Linked DNA regions of Homo sapiens. The protein of the gene in region 1 interacts with the protein of each later gene in a pairwise test. Each region holds a gene or a part of one and is shown on either strand. Other genes may lie near its edges.

The links.
Region 2: the proteins of SPSB1 (region 1) and ADPRH interact in binary tests that used the Homo sapiens proteins (3 or more experiments, as listed by UniProt).

What each region holds. Positions count from the first base shown.
Region 1 is NC_000001.11:9,351,888-9,358,912, reverse strand, and holds part of SPSB1 (SPRY domain-containing SOCS box protein 1), read right to left. Parts: intron 3,171-7,025; 5' UTR 3,022-3,170; coding exon 2,328-3,021; intron 1-2,327. UniProt on the Homo sapiens protein: Substrate recognition component of a SCF-like ECS (Elongin BC-CUL2/5-SOCS-box protein) E3 ubiquitin-protein ligase complex which mediates the ubiquitination and subsequent proteasomal degradation of target proteins.
Region 2 is NC_000003.12:119,575,408-119,582,497, reverse strand, and holds the start of ADPRH (ADP-ribosylarginine hydrolase), read right to left. Parts: upstream 3,007-7,090; 5' UTR 2,647-3,006; exon of another isoform or gene 1,948-2,646; 5' UTR 1,862-1,947; intron 365-1,861; 5' UTR 329-364; coding exon 31-328; intron 1-30.

The DNA of each region.
Region 1 (7,025 bases):
CTGCACCTCCAGGACTGGGTGGGCGGAACCCTCTGTTCAAATAGGCTCCAGTCCCCTCCCAGCCACTCCAGGGGTCTGTGTACTGTACTGGAGCTATGATACATAACCGTGAAGCTGTGCAAACCCAGAGCTCATGACAGCATCAGGGGGCATGTTCCTGGAGGGCACAGGGCTGGAAATCTTCATGGGGCCCCACAGTCTCAGTGGGCAGGCAACAAGAGCAGGTCTGGCAGTCCCCTCATCTGTCTGTCTGCAAAGAATGGACATTAACCTCCCTGGCTCCGTGACCACCCCATGGCTGGGAGGAGGGAGGCAGGGCTGAGGGTCAGGGCTCCTCAAGATTCTAGGTCCTAGGCAGGATATGCCCAGGGCTCCCAATCTGCAGCCATCCCAGTTTGAGGCAAATTTGGCTGTGGACGTGGTGCCACTCATTTCTGACACCTAGGGAGACAGACACAGAACTCACTCTGCTGGTTCCATTTCCGAGGTGACTTCCCCGGGGAGGCTACCTGCTGGCTGCAGGCCTGGTCACCCACCTCTTCCAGGAGTCCCATGACCTGGGGGCGCCAGGCTGCACAGACGAGGACCAAGCAGCCCTGGGAGCCTGTACCACAGACATCGTGTGTGGCTGTCAACTCACTGCCATCACAGTCAAAGTCACAGCAGAGGACCAAGAGAAAGAGGGGCGGGGAGGCTTCCAAAGAGAAATGTGTAAGCGTTTGCGCATGCCTAACCACCCCGACACTTTCCCCAGTATCTTTCAAAGGCTGACGTGGGGGAGGAGGAGCAGGAGGAGGACCTCCTTCTCCAGGAGGAGAAGCTGCAGGCTTGGAGACTTCAAGACAGAGTCAGCATCTGTATTCCTGACCTCTGGTGGGGGGCCTCACCCCCCTCTGCCTCTTGCCTGGCCTGCAGGGTGGGGTTAGAGCTCAGGGTGCTGAGCTGAACCTGCCCTTTAAGGACAGTCAACCCATGGGTGGATGGAGCTTTCCAGCCCACTTGCTTCCCAACGTGGGACTTGCAGGCGGTAGAAGGGACTCATGCAGGCAAGGAACTCTGAGAGAGGGCCGTACACGGGGTGAGCCGTTCTGCAACGCCAGGCCCTCCTGCTACCACGGACTCCCAGCTGGGCAGCCATGGAGCCTTCACCTCCCACACCAGCACGGTGCCCCTACACATGGGCTGCATTCACAGTCTGAGAAAGGCCACTCCCCTTCCCAAAGGGACAGGTGGAGTTCGCTGTTGACTCAGTCTGTTTCTGATCTGCATGCTCCTCCCCAACTTCATGACTGAAGAAGTCCCTCAGGACTGTATCTCAGAGCCCACTCAGAAGCCTCTGGCAGAAGAGAAAGACTCTAAGCCTGTCTAATGAGTGAGAGAGGTCACTAGCATTCATTTACCGGAGAGGCCCTAGTATCCCCAAGGTTACAAACCCCAGCTCGATGATATGCTGGCAACTGGGCTAGAATTTGGTCAACTGAGGATCAAACCTGGAGGCAGGTCACCCAGAGAAACAAAGACCACCTACTTATTAATTCATCCATCTATCCATTTATCCATCAATTCATTAGTCTATCTGCTTATCCATCCACTCATCCATCCATTCACTGATCCATCCACCCACTCATCCATCCATCCATCCATCTACCCACTCATCCACCTGTTCATTTATCCATCCATCCATCCATCCATTCATTCACTGATCCATCCACCCATCCATCCATCCACTCATCCATCCACCCATCCATCCACCCATCCATCCACCCATCCATCCATCCACTCATCCATCCATCCATCCACTCATCCATCCATCCATCCATCCACCCACCCATCCATCCGTTCATTTATCCATCCACTCATTCATCCATCCACTTGTTCATCCACTCATCCATCCATCAATCTAAACACTCATCCACCCCCTACCCACCCATCCACCCACATCCATCCATCTGTTTGTTCAACCACTTATCTATCAATCCAAACATTCATCCATCAATTCATTATACACGCATCCATCCATTATTCACTCATCTATCCATCTATTCATCATCCATCCATCCAACCAATCATTCATCCATCTATTCATTCATCATCCATCATCCATCCATCTGTCCATTCATTCATGAGGCACCGTTAGGTAATCTAGCTGACTCTGGGTAGAATTCCTCACTTAACCCGATGCAAAAGTTGCCTCTGAGGGTCTGAATACACTGGAATATCGTCTTCAAAACACTCTAGTTCCAATGAATCAACTTTTGGCCTGAGCCCAGCCAGGACCATGGGGACTGAGGGAGGGCATTGCCTCTGACAGCAGAGGAGACACTTACGATCGAGTCCGTTCAAGTAGCGCATTCGGATCTCACAGTGGCCCCAGACGGCACTCACTACAGGATACAGTTTTTTGCCCTTGAGTCCCCGAAAAGCCACTCCCATGTACTGTCCATCCACAATGAAGCTCAGAGTCCCGTCGTCCATGTCCAGGGCTACCAGGAAGGAGTCAGGGACAATGAATGTCTCATCTGGTTCCAGAAAGGCTGGGTATGTTTTGCTTGGCTGGTTCTTGCCATCGTGGTAGAGCCGGTTGCGCCCCAAGTCCCAGCCCCAGGACTCGTGGTTATTCCCCACGAGGGTTGTGTACCCGACAGAGTGCAGGGGGGCGTCTGCCGTCGCCACCCCCACCACGGCGTGTGTGCCCCGCTGTCTCATGGCCCACGTGATCTGCCACACGTGCAGCCCACGGGTATACCCGACTTTGCCCCTGATAGCGTCCGTGCTCTGGGCCACCGGATGCCGGTGAAAGATGAGCTTGTCGTCCTCCTTCACAAAGACATTGAGCGATCGGTCGTTGTTGTTCCATGAATGCAGCAGCTGGACATCATAGGACACAGGGGGCATGTCCAGTAGCAGATCCAGCCGGGTGGGCTTGCAGTAATCCAGACCCTGGAGCTCCTGCTTCAGGGGCCTGTACGTGGGGTCCCTCATGTCCACAGTCTTGATCCCTCCAGTGACCTTCTGACCCATGTTCGCCCCTGGCTTCACCTTCTTACCGACTCCCAAGGCAAACTCATCAATCTCGTGGTCTCGTCTCCAGTATTCTGATCGGGGCCAGACAGAATTCCTAATGAGGGCTGCCAGGAGACCTCTGCAAGCTGCGCAGTGTTCAGTATTGCCTAATGGACGGAAAGACAAACAACCGGTGAGCAGGACTGTGGGATGAAGGGGAAAGTTAACCCGGAGGGCAAGGCGACCACATCAGCATGTCCCAGCAGCCTGCACCTGGGCTCTGTCATGCCTGACACGGGCAGGCTGGAGCCTTGGCGCAGAATGAAATCCCCCGTTCCCTGGCTAGCTGTCACAAAGGAAAGGGTCTGTCTGTCCACGCGGCCGACTGTGTGGAGAGGTGGGCTTGGGGGATGGGCATCACCCTCATCTGTGTTGGGTACAGACACATGGCTGATGCCCACCAAATACCTCATCAGGGTTCCACAGGGCGGAAGGCCATGGTGCCACAGAACCAGGACTCAGCCATGACAGTGGGCATTTGCTTGGTCAAAACAGAGGGAGGTGCATGGCCCTTGCCTTGCGGTTCAGAGGGGAAGTGGAGCCCCAGGTAGCAGCAGAGGCTGCTGAGGATGCCAATCCCAGCTCCTCCTCCCTGTCTCTGGCACAGCTACCTCCAGCAGACGCACCACCAATTCACTGCAGAAAAGGGCCTTCTGGTGCAGCTGGACAGCTCAACTCAGGGGTCTGTGTGCGCTTGGCACGAAAGGCACCAGGAGCCTCCTCCGCCAGCTACATTCTTCTCAAGGGAAGGCCTCGATTCAGACAGCAAGGGGGGCTCATCCCCCGACCCCCGGGATTTCTTAGATGACCAACCACCTTTTTCCTGCCCACACCCTTCAACTAGAAGCCAGGGTTTCGCCCTCTGGGTCTCAACAGCACATCTGGGGAGGAAAGTCCGATGCTAGGATGCCTCGTTCCCTCTCTGGCCTCACCATCCCCTGGGTCCTTCAGGAGGGAGAACAGGGACTCTGGGTTGGGGGAGAGATCTCACTGCATCATCTACCCGATCCCTCTCCACTGGTAGCCCAGGAAGAATTCTTTTTTTTTTTGAGACGCAGTCTTGCTCTGTCGCCCAGGCTGGAGTGCAGTGGCGTGATCTCGGCTCACTGCAACCTCCACCTCCTGGGTTCAGGTGATTCTCCTGCCTCAGCTACGATTACAGGCACCCACCACCATGCCTGGCTAATTTTTGTATTTTTAGTAGAGACGGGGTTTCACCATGTTGGCCAGGCTGGTCTTGAACTCCTGACCTCAGGTGATCCACCCGGCTTGGCCTCCCAAAGTGCTGGCCAGGAAGAGTTCTATTCAAGGAGAAGGATAAGGCAGCAGAAGATTTGAGCCTCGTTCAAGAGAGAAGTTTCTTTCTGCCATCAAGAACCTCCTTGGCCTCTGGAAGGGACCAGAGAGGCCAAGGAGGGCAGCCTGGTTTGGGGTCAGGCTCCTAGGATCAACTAGGCCAGGGGCAAGGCAGGCTCCCGTTGAAGAAATGGAACTAAAGGAGCCTGTGGGGGCGCCTGGGCGGGAGGCTGTTGGAGCCTTGGCTGCCGGGAGAGAGTCACGCTGGGTCGCTTGTTACTAGGGTGCCCGAGTAAAGGAGACAAAGAGAACCCAAAGGAACCCGGGGTAGGGGAGGCTGCAGGCTCCCAGACACACGGAAATCCAGGGACCTCAGAGGGCTGGCCTCCCCCTTCAGTATGGGGCCAGCCAGGGCCAGGCTCTGCAGTGGGGCTGGCCTAGAGCTCCCTCTCAGCTGGGAAGAGGCCCCACGAGACCCTGTTCCCGGGGCGGCCAGGTCTCCAGGAAGTTTGGTCCTGGCAGAACCTTCCCATGCGGGAACACTTGGTGCCCCGACCCCCTTATCTCAGGGGCCAGGTCATGCTTCTCGCCCTCCCCTTTCTGATGTGAGACACAGGGTTCCTTTTTTTTTTTTTGAGATGGAGTTTTGCTCTTGTTGCCCAGGCTGGAGTGCAATGGCGCTATCTCGTCTCACTGCAACCTCCGCTTCCTGGGTTCAAGCGATTCTCCTGCCTATGCCTCTCAAGTAGCTGGGATTACAGGCGCCCACCACCACGCCCAGCTAATTTTTTCTATTTAGTAGAGGCCGGGTTTCACCATGTTGTCCAGGCTGGTCTCGAACTCCTGACCTCAGGTGATTCACCCACCTCGGCCTGCCAAGTGCTGGGATTACAGGTGGGAACCACTGCGCCCAGCCATAGACAGAGGGTTCTGATCTCAGGGGCACGGTCATCTCTTCAGAGCAGGGCAGGACTCCTTGTGTCCAGTGTCTGCAAAGCCATTACAGAGCTGAGGTGTCCCCTCTGCAGCCTAGAGGGCCGCCCTGGTTCCAGAGAGTTCTGTGAATACTGTGACCTCACATCCATGATCTCCCAGGAAAATCCCATTTTCAAGCTTTTAGTTCCATCTCCTCTCCTGGGAGCCACTGAAACCTCTAGGACTCCCTCCATGGCGCTGCAGAGGGACACCCTGTGGCTTTGGGGCCTGCGCCTCAAGCTGCGGGAGGGAAGGGGGAGAGAGCTGGGTCTGGTGTGGTGCGGGTGTGGCCTTCCCTGAATTCCCCTCTTCCCCAACCTCCACTGGAGCATTTTCTGAGCTGTAGGAAGGCTGGGAGGGCCGAGGCGGCTCTCGAGGGGCCGGGCGGGCTGAGGCGGCTCTCGAGGTCAGAGCTGCATGGAGCGGGGGTGCAGAGTACCACCCTCCCATCTGTCTGGACACCCCCTCCAGCTTGGTGCCCAGGAACCTCTCCATATTCTCAATTTTGCAGGGTCCTGTGGGCACAGAGGTCAGCTCCCTGGGAGGACGGGGCAGGAATTACTTTCTAAGAGAGTTAGTTCATGTCACGCTTCCTGCAGCGTAGCCCCTCCACAGCCCCCCTGCCGCTCAACTGTGGCAGCAGGGAGGACCTTTCTCCCGGGATCTCGTCTGTCATGGAAGATTCACCCTCTCTCCACGTGTGGGAGCAGGTGGGAAGAGTGAGGAGGAGGCTGGGGGAGGGAGGGGAGGGTGGGAGAGACAGGTGGCGGGGAGAGGTCCTCTAGCAGGTAATTGAAAATGCCAGGAGGGACCATAACAGGGAGGTTGAGGGGGGAAGAGGCGAGGAGAGTAACACCTCAGAGGGTTGCTCTGAAAGGGTGAAGTGGGGTGAGACAGGGAGGGACGGGGAAGGAGGGGGAGGCAGAGGAGGGAGGAGGAGGGAGCTCTCAGGCTAATAAACCCAGAACTGAACACACAGAACGCCTGTCTCAGCGAGACCGGAGATCAGCTTTTTCTGAAATGGGCGCGATAGTAAATGCCTGGCTTTGAGGGCCAGACAGTCTCTGCTGTTGTCGCACAAAAGCAGCCACAGACGGGACATAAATAAACGCGCGTGGCTGAGTTCCAGAAAACTTTATTTATAAGGACAGGCTGGCCTGGGGTCCGCCAGCCAGAGCTTAGACAGGGCCCTGCATCGTCTCCACTTAAGACACAGCCTTGTGGGGCTGTAGCAGGCATTATCCGGATGGTGGGGAGCGGGGGATCCCCAGAGGCTGGGCCAGCCCCGTCCCAGAAAGAGCCACCAGAAAGGACGGCTTCACCTTGACGTGGGACATCCACTGTCTGTCTGTCCAGGTCGGCTCCACAACCTCTCCTAGTTCTGAGATGCCAGCACCTCAGGTGGCCTAGCAAGTCCTTAACACCAATGCTGGGCTGAGCTCCCTAAACCTAACCTGAACCACAACCCCTCCACCTCCACCCACCTTCCCTCCACCCCCTCACCCCAGCCCAGGCCTTGGACCACATGGCTGTGAGGGATGGGAGTCTGTGGGAGGGAGGGCCTGGGAGGAGGGAGGCTGGGGAAAGAGGGTGGGGCGTTTTCCCCGGGCAGGGCAGGCAGGTAAAGGGGCCTGCAGCACTGTGGGGTGATTCCTTCACAAGGGCACCCCAGGGCCTAGCCAGGGAATGTG
Region 2 (7,090 bases), on another chromosome or scaffold:
CTCCTTGCACCTCCCACCGGCTGTGCTCACCTGGTGCCCGCCCATCCATGTCTTCCATGCAGTCTTGGTAATGCTTAGCAAGGAGGTAATACAGTTGAGTCAACTTAGGGGCTTTCCCAGCTTCCACAAGAGCTTCTGCTGTGGCCAAGTGCATCACTGTGTCGTCACTAACTCTCCACCTTCCCACGTCTAGGGCATCCAAGCCGCCCAGCTGGGCCAACTGCCGGTGTATCTTCTCCCCATCCTGGAGGAACTCCCACTTCCCATTGTAGTACCCCAGGGCATCTCCAGCTGCACTCAGCACCATAGCAGCCACATACTTCTCCATCAGTCCCTCACAATTGCTGGGCTCTGGAGAGGGTGTCTTTGTGGGGAAATTAAGACAAAGGAAATAGGATGAGGAGCAAGAAGAATCAGAAAAAACAACGACTCTAGCTATGTTTTATTGAGCACTCACTACTTGCAGACATTGTATCAGTGGCATCTCATGTAATCCTCATCACTGCTCTATGAGGAATATAAAGCCCATTTTATGTATGAACAAATGGAGGACCATGGAGATAATGCAGTTTGAGAAATGTTCAGTGACTTGTCTCAGGTCACAGAGCCAATAAGTGGCAGGGCTGGGATCCCAACATAGGTCCATCTGACTCCAAAGTCTATCATCATAACTACAACTGTATCTCTTGCCTCTTGGTGAGTAGTAAGCCCACTAAATTCTGCAAGTCAAACCCAGCTCATCATTTGCTCTTCTTAGCTGGGATTTGGCCTTAGAAGTGCAAGGCTTTACACTTCCTATTAGTGTCACAATGTGTAGTTCACAAAGCACCTGCACATTCATTGTCTCACTAATAGGGAGGGATTACAGTATGCATTTCACAGATAAGAAAATGAAGGCTCAGATAAGCTAAATTCACAAAACAAGAGGAGTGGAAGTACTGGAACCCAAATCTGATTCCAGCCAAGCCAGGATGCTTGGTATCACACCACTCAGCCTCAGTCCAGATCTTCTTACCTTGGGCAACCTCTTGGTGCCTCAGCCTCCACATTTATAAAATGGCACTGATTTTAAAAAGTAACAACCTCCTGGATTTGTTGTTAGGAATAAATAAATTAAATTTCATAAAGTTGGCTGGACGCGGTGGCTCACGCCTGTAATCTCAGCACTTTGGGAGGCCGAGGTGGGTGGCTCATCTGAGGTCAGGAGATCGAGACCAGCCTGGCCAACAGGGTGAAACCCCATCTCTACTAAAAATACAAAAATTAGCCGGGTATGGTGGTGCATGCCTGTAGTCCCAGCTACTCAGGAGGCTGAGGCAGGAGAATCGCTTGAACCCAGGAGGCAGAGGTTGCAGTGAGCCGAGATTGTGCCACTGCACTCCAGCCTGGGCGACAGACCAAGACTCTGTCTCAAAAAAAAAAAAAAAAAAAAAGTTCTTAGAGTGCTTGGCACATAGTAAGCTTGATTTTTGACATATTTGTATTATTCATATACAACCAGGGAAAATGGGTGTTCTGTTTTAGAACTAGAACATTTTCTCCCCACAACCTTTCCTTCGACAGTAATGTTTAAATATTGTTTCTCTTAGAAATGATCAGCTTCTAGAGAATTCGAATCTCTATTAATAATATACCCACCATGAATGAAATCCCTGGTAAAGCGCTGGCTTCCCTGTTGGTGCATTTCCTAAGAACCCCCCTCTTTCAGCCAATTCCTCAGGGTTCCCTTCTCCCTGTGGCTTTCAGGTCAAAGCCCTCCATCCCATCCAGGCCAATACTTTTATAAGGGTCTGGCAGACTAGCTCATTCTCCCCTCAGGTGAAACTTTTCCCTCCCCTCCACTTATCTAAACCCTATTTACCCAAGGTCTAGTTCAAGTCAGGAGGCTTCCAGAAGTGCTTCTGCAGCTGCACTGCTGTTGGCCATGGAATGCAGGCTGGAGAGCCCCTGGAGAAGGAGTAAACGACGAAGATGGATGCGTTCCACTACCCAGTTACTGGTAATGCTGAGTTTCTGAGCTCACAAAGGATATTTGTAAATGTTATTTACATAGTTTATTATTTACAGTGAAGCCTAGGCACTGAGATTCTGGGCTACTAGACCTGACAGACACCCGGGACAGCGGTTTGCCCATCTGTAAACTGGAGGGGGAAGTGGGGAGGTATAGGCTCTCGGAAGTTCCGTCCTGCGCTGCGATTTTCAGACACTAGGCCAAGACACTCTGCTTCTTGGCCTCGGAGGACTAACTTTAACCCCCCATACCCTCCCTCTCAATGTCCTCATTGTCCTTTCCGTAATTCCTTCTGGCTCCACCCTAATGTGTGCTTCTGTGAATTGCAAGCTGGGATGGGGGAAGAAGACCGGCATCTTTTTTCGGTTGTAAATTCCCTTTAACGTTCGCTTTCAGAACGCTGTAATTACTTAACTCCTCTGAACTTTCACGGGTCACATTCTCGTACCCGAACTATACATTCAGAACTAAGATCTGATCAGCTGCTTCCGGGCCATGCCCGGCTTTGGAAAGAAACGGGGCGGTTGACACGCTCCCACGATTTGCAAGACTGGGAATCCTCATGGTCGGCCACACTCGGAGAGCGCCAGGGGCGGGGGAGGGGAGCGCGGGGCCGAGGGCCGGGATCGCGATACCTGCTGTAGCCTGGACTGGAACGCGCGAGCGACGGGCGTGGCGCGGGCTCCCGGGGCCGGGGAAGAGGCCTTGGCTGCTGCGGGTGGACGAGGGCGCGGGTTGGGGCGGAGCCGGGTCACCGGGTTCCGGGACTGTCCCCAGATAAGCAGGGTGGCGGCGAGGGCCCCCGCACCTGCGCTTGGCCGCGCTGAGTGAGCTAATCTTGGAGCCTCCAAGGCGGCTTCCTGGCACCGCCGCGCCCTTCTGCACCCAAGCGAGAGTGGACGGGACCTCCGTCGCCCGCCCCAAATGCTCTGAAGAGCCCGGAGCCTGGTGCCCGGAATGTGGCGGCACCGGAAAGCCGGCTCTCGCCTGGCTGTGGTCAGTGACTCCCGTGTGGCCCCGGCTGACGCCTTCGCCCGTGCTCACGTCCGACTTTGTAGGACTGTAGTGGACCGGGTGTGCCCAGATGCTTGAAGAGCGTACTGAGTGTGCCGCCCTTGCCAGGGTTCTGGGCCCTCACGCATAAAGTGGGATAATAATATCTGCCTCTTAGAATGGTTGTTAAGGATTCAGTTAGTTAATTTTAACTAGTCATTTATTTGGCAGCAGCGTAGAATTCTTGTATCCTGATCGTAAATAAAAGCAAAGAAAAACGAAGAGTATTTTTGTCTAAATACATTAATCATGTCACTTTTAAAGCAAATCAGAATCACCATATGCAAATATTCTATATATTTCTCCAAAGTTTTAAATTTGCTATGCCTATTTTCTTGCTGTAATGACTAGCCTTGGTCTGAGAGCTTTTTAAAAAATTGATATATAATTTATATATAATGAAATGTCCTTACACCATAATCGAGATATGAAATATTTCCATCACTTTAAAACATTCTCTTGTGGCCTTCCCAGTGAATAACCATCTCCATCTCCAACTCTAGCCTAAGTGACTTTTGAGTGTTTACAAAAATCAAGTTCACCAATAAGGGAGGCAGAGATCACCTCCAACCCCCTACACCCTCTAGCTCTTAGTGAGCTAATCAGCTGCATCTAGAAGCCAAATTGACACTAGGCAGATTAACAAGAGAAAAGTATACAAATTTTATTAATTTTACATGTACATGGGGATGTTAAGAGACTGAATCCTGAAGAAAGTGTCCAAAGCAAGATGCTTTTATACTTTTTAGAAAAAGAGTGATAAATTTAAGAAGAAGTGACAGGACAAAGAAAATCCGGCTAGGGTGGTAAAAAATTTCTAGGGGAGCCCCTAGGAGATATATGGGGGGTGGGGTGTAAAACAGGTGGAAGATAATGGTTACTTTGCAAGAATGTTTACTCCAGTCCAAATGCCACCTCCAGTTCCAAATCTCTGGTGATGAGAGCTATTTTCTCGCTCTGGCGTGGAGAACATACCTCTCCTAGAGGAATCTTTATTGCTGGCTGCATGCAGGAAGAGACAGCTCAGCTCCTGTCAGGGAACCAGGCTCATTTGTCTTTCACACAGTATGCCAATCACTGAGGCGCACAAGTTTTGCAGTAGAGAAAGGGTGTATTCACAAGGCAGCCAAGACAGGAGACTGGAGAACAGGCCTCAAATGTGCCTTTCCAAAGATGGAATTTTAGGAGTGCTTATGGGATAGGGGAGGAAGGTGGTCCAAGGTTCAGAGAAAGATGAGGTAAGGAAAAGTGAGGCAATCGGTAATCTGAGCAAGCATAGTCAATCTTCATGGCTGTTCATAGAACACATGTTCACAAAATCGTGACGTTAGCATGATCTGAGAGTGGAGTTTTGGGCCTTCTGATGTCAAAAGGTCACCCATTGGACACTCACGCAGGCCAAGATGAAGGGCTGGTGGCTTGAACTGGACAAGAACTGACTCTAAGTTCCTGAAAAATAACTTAAGCAATATTTTCCATGGTGTCCTATCAGAGAAGTTATCTATAAGGAGGCAAGTGGAATTTAGTTATGTATCGTCTAGCTACATGACTTTTAGCTATGCAGGTTTTAAAATCGACTAGAAGCAAGTGACCAAAAGCAAGCAAGGCAAATTAAGTGTCAGGCCTAATCAGGTCAGCCCTCAGTTTTACCCTTTCTGAAACTATAATTTCTCTAATGTTTTCAACTCAAAGTAATCAATATATTATATGGCATATTTGGGGATGGCACATCCTTCATTCTTTCAACTGTCAAAGATTTTCAGCCTCTGAGGATGCAGTCAAAGCAAGTTCTGTAGTAAGAGACATTTTGAATAATAAGCATCCCGATAAAACTCAACACAGTTTCAGCTTAAGATGTCTGCTGAGGATATTGTTCATATTATGTAGTGATCTTTCTGTGAGAATCCATGGGAAAGGGTGATTTTTTGTTTTCGTTTTTGACTTAAATGTAAAGAATAACTGGGGCTGGGCACAGTGGTTCATACCTGTAATCCCAGTACTTTGGGAGGCCAAGGGGGACAGATTGCTTGAGACCAGGAGTTCGAGACCAGCCTGGGCAACATGGTGAAACCTGTTCTCTACAAAAAATACAAAAATTATCCAGGCATGCGCCTGTGGTCTGAGCTACTCAGGAGGCTGAGGTGGGAGGACTGCTTGAGCCCAGGAAGCAGAGGTTGCAGTGAGCTGAGATTGTGCCACTGCACTCCAGCCTGGACGACAGAGCAAGACCCTGTCTCAAAACACAAACAAACAAACAAAAACAAACAGAAAAACTGGGGTTGTTAGCAATTAGTTTGCTTTGAACTTTATGGTGCCTATGAACTTTGTGACCATTAGCATAGACTCCCGACACATCCACGCTATCTGGTTTCAAACCCTTGTAACAACACTTGGGGGCCAGGCACGGTGGCTCACGCCTGTAATCCCAGCACTTTGGGAGGCCAAGGCAGGTGGATCATGAGGTCAGGAGTTCGAGACCAGCCTGACCAACATGGTGAAACCCTGTCTCTACTAAAAATAAAAAATTAGCCGGGCATGGTGGTGGGTGCCTGTAATCCCAGCTACTCGGGAGGCCAAGGCAGGAGAATTGCTTGAACCCAGGAGGCGGAGGTTGCAGTGAGCTGAGATCGTGCCACTGCACTCCAACCTGGGCGACAGAGTGAGACTCCATCTCAAAACAAAACAAACAAACAAAAAACACTAGCTTGAGTAAGTGATTTTAGACAAGTCACTTCATCTTGCTAAGCTTCACTTTCTGTTATTAAGTAGGAAAAATAATAGTACATATTTCATAAAGTTGGTTTGAAGATTGCATGAAATAATTAATTGAAAAATTTTAGCACAGTGCTTATCAATGTAGTAGTCATGCAAGAAAAAATTACTACCAGGTCAGATATCTCTCTGTATTCCCAGTTCTCATCTCCATCACACACATGAGCCATTCTACCTTCTTTTCACATTAGTTAACACCTACTGACATCCTTTCTCTTCTGTCAAAATTAGAAAATGTTTTTGGGCATCAAGGACATTGTCCTATAAACCAAAAGGATAATTTATCAGTTAGCATGTTTCCAGCTCCAAATAACGGCAAATAACCATCACTCTTCCCCACCCCCAAAACACCACATACTCACTGGGCTTAAATAATAATGGCACTTATTATCTTATGTAACAAAATGTCTAAAGGTAAGAAGTCCCAGGGTTAATTTAGCAACTGTATACTATCATCAAAGAAAGACCCTGTTCTTCTTATCTTTCTGACCTACTATCTTCAGTTATTTTTATCCCCAGACTGACGTTTTTAATTGGCACAAGATCATATTTTCCCCATTTTAATTTATTTTATCAAATGTATATAGAGGTCTTATCCTTCGGTTTGTTTTTGTTTAAACCATTTTGCTATTTTGTGTCTGCTAGCGAGCCCAAGAGGCGTTGCCTATTAACCATTTACTGTTAATTTCTTCGAAAATTTTTGTTTAGCTCTGATTATTTAACTAGGCAGTCAAGATAATGTGTATGCATAATAACACATTGCAGTTACAGTTATAGACAGTGTCCAGTGGAAAAAGAGAGTGTTTCTTCTTTCAAGATGAAGAAACTATTCTCAAAGATCCTCCAGAAGTCTAAACCAATTCCTGGCAGGCAGGCTGGATTATGATGTTTCCCTTAGATCAAGGATAGACACATCTTCCCTGAGAGGTAGAGGTAGGTTCTTTTACAAAAATCAGGGTTTGTTTGCAAAGGAAACAGTGAATGTTGTTCTGCCAAGAAGAACAAATAGTTACTTGGCATCTTACTAGGTGCTAGGCATTAGTATAGGTCCTGGAAAGACAAATATATTGCATAGTTGGTTCCTTGCTCTTAGTTTTATTGAGGAAGACACATCATAGGCATCTTCATTACTCACCAATACAGAATCAATTGCTATGCTGAGGCTGTTGCTGAGAAATAAACTTGTAGCCCTCGGACCTGATCTTAAGATATTTCAGACACTTCATCTATAAGGTCGGAACAATGACACTGTTC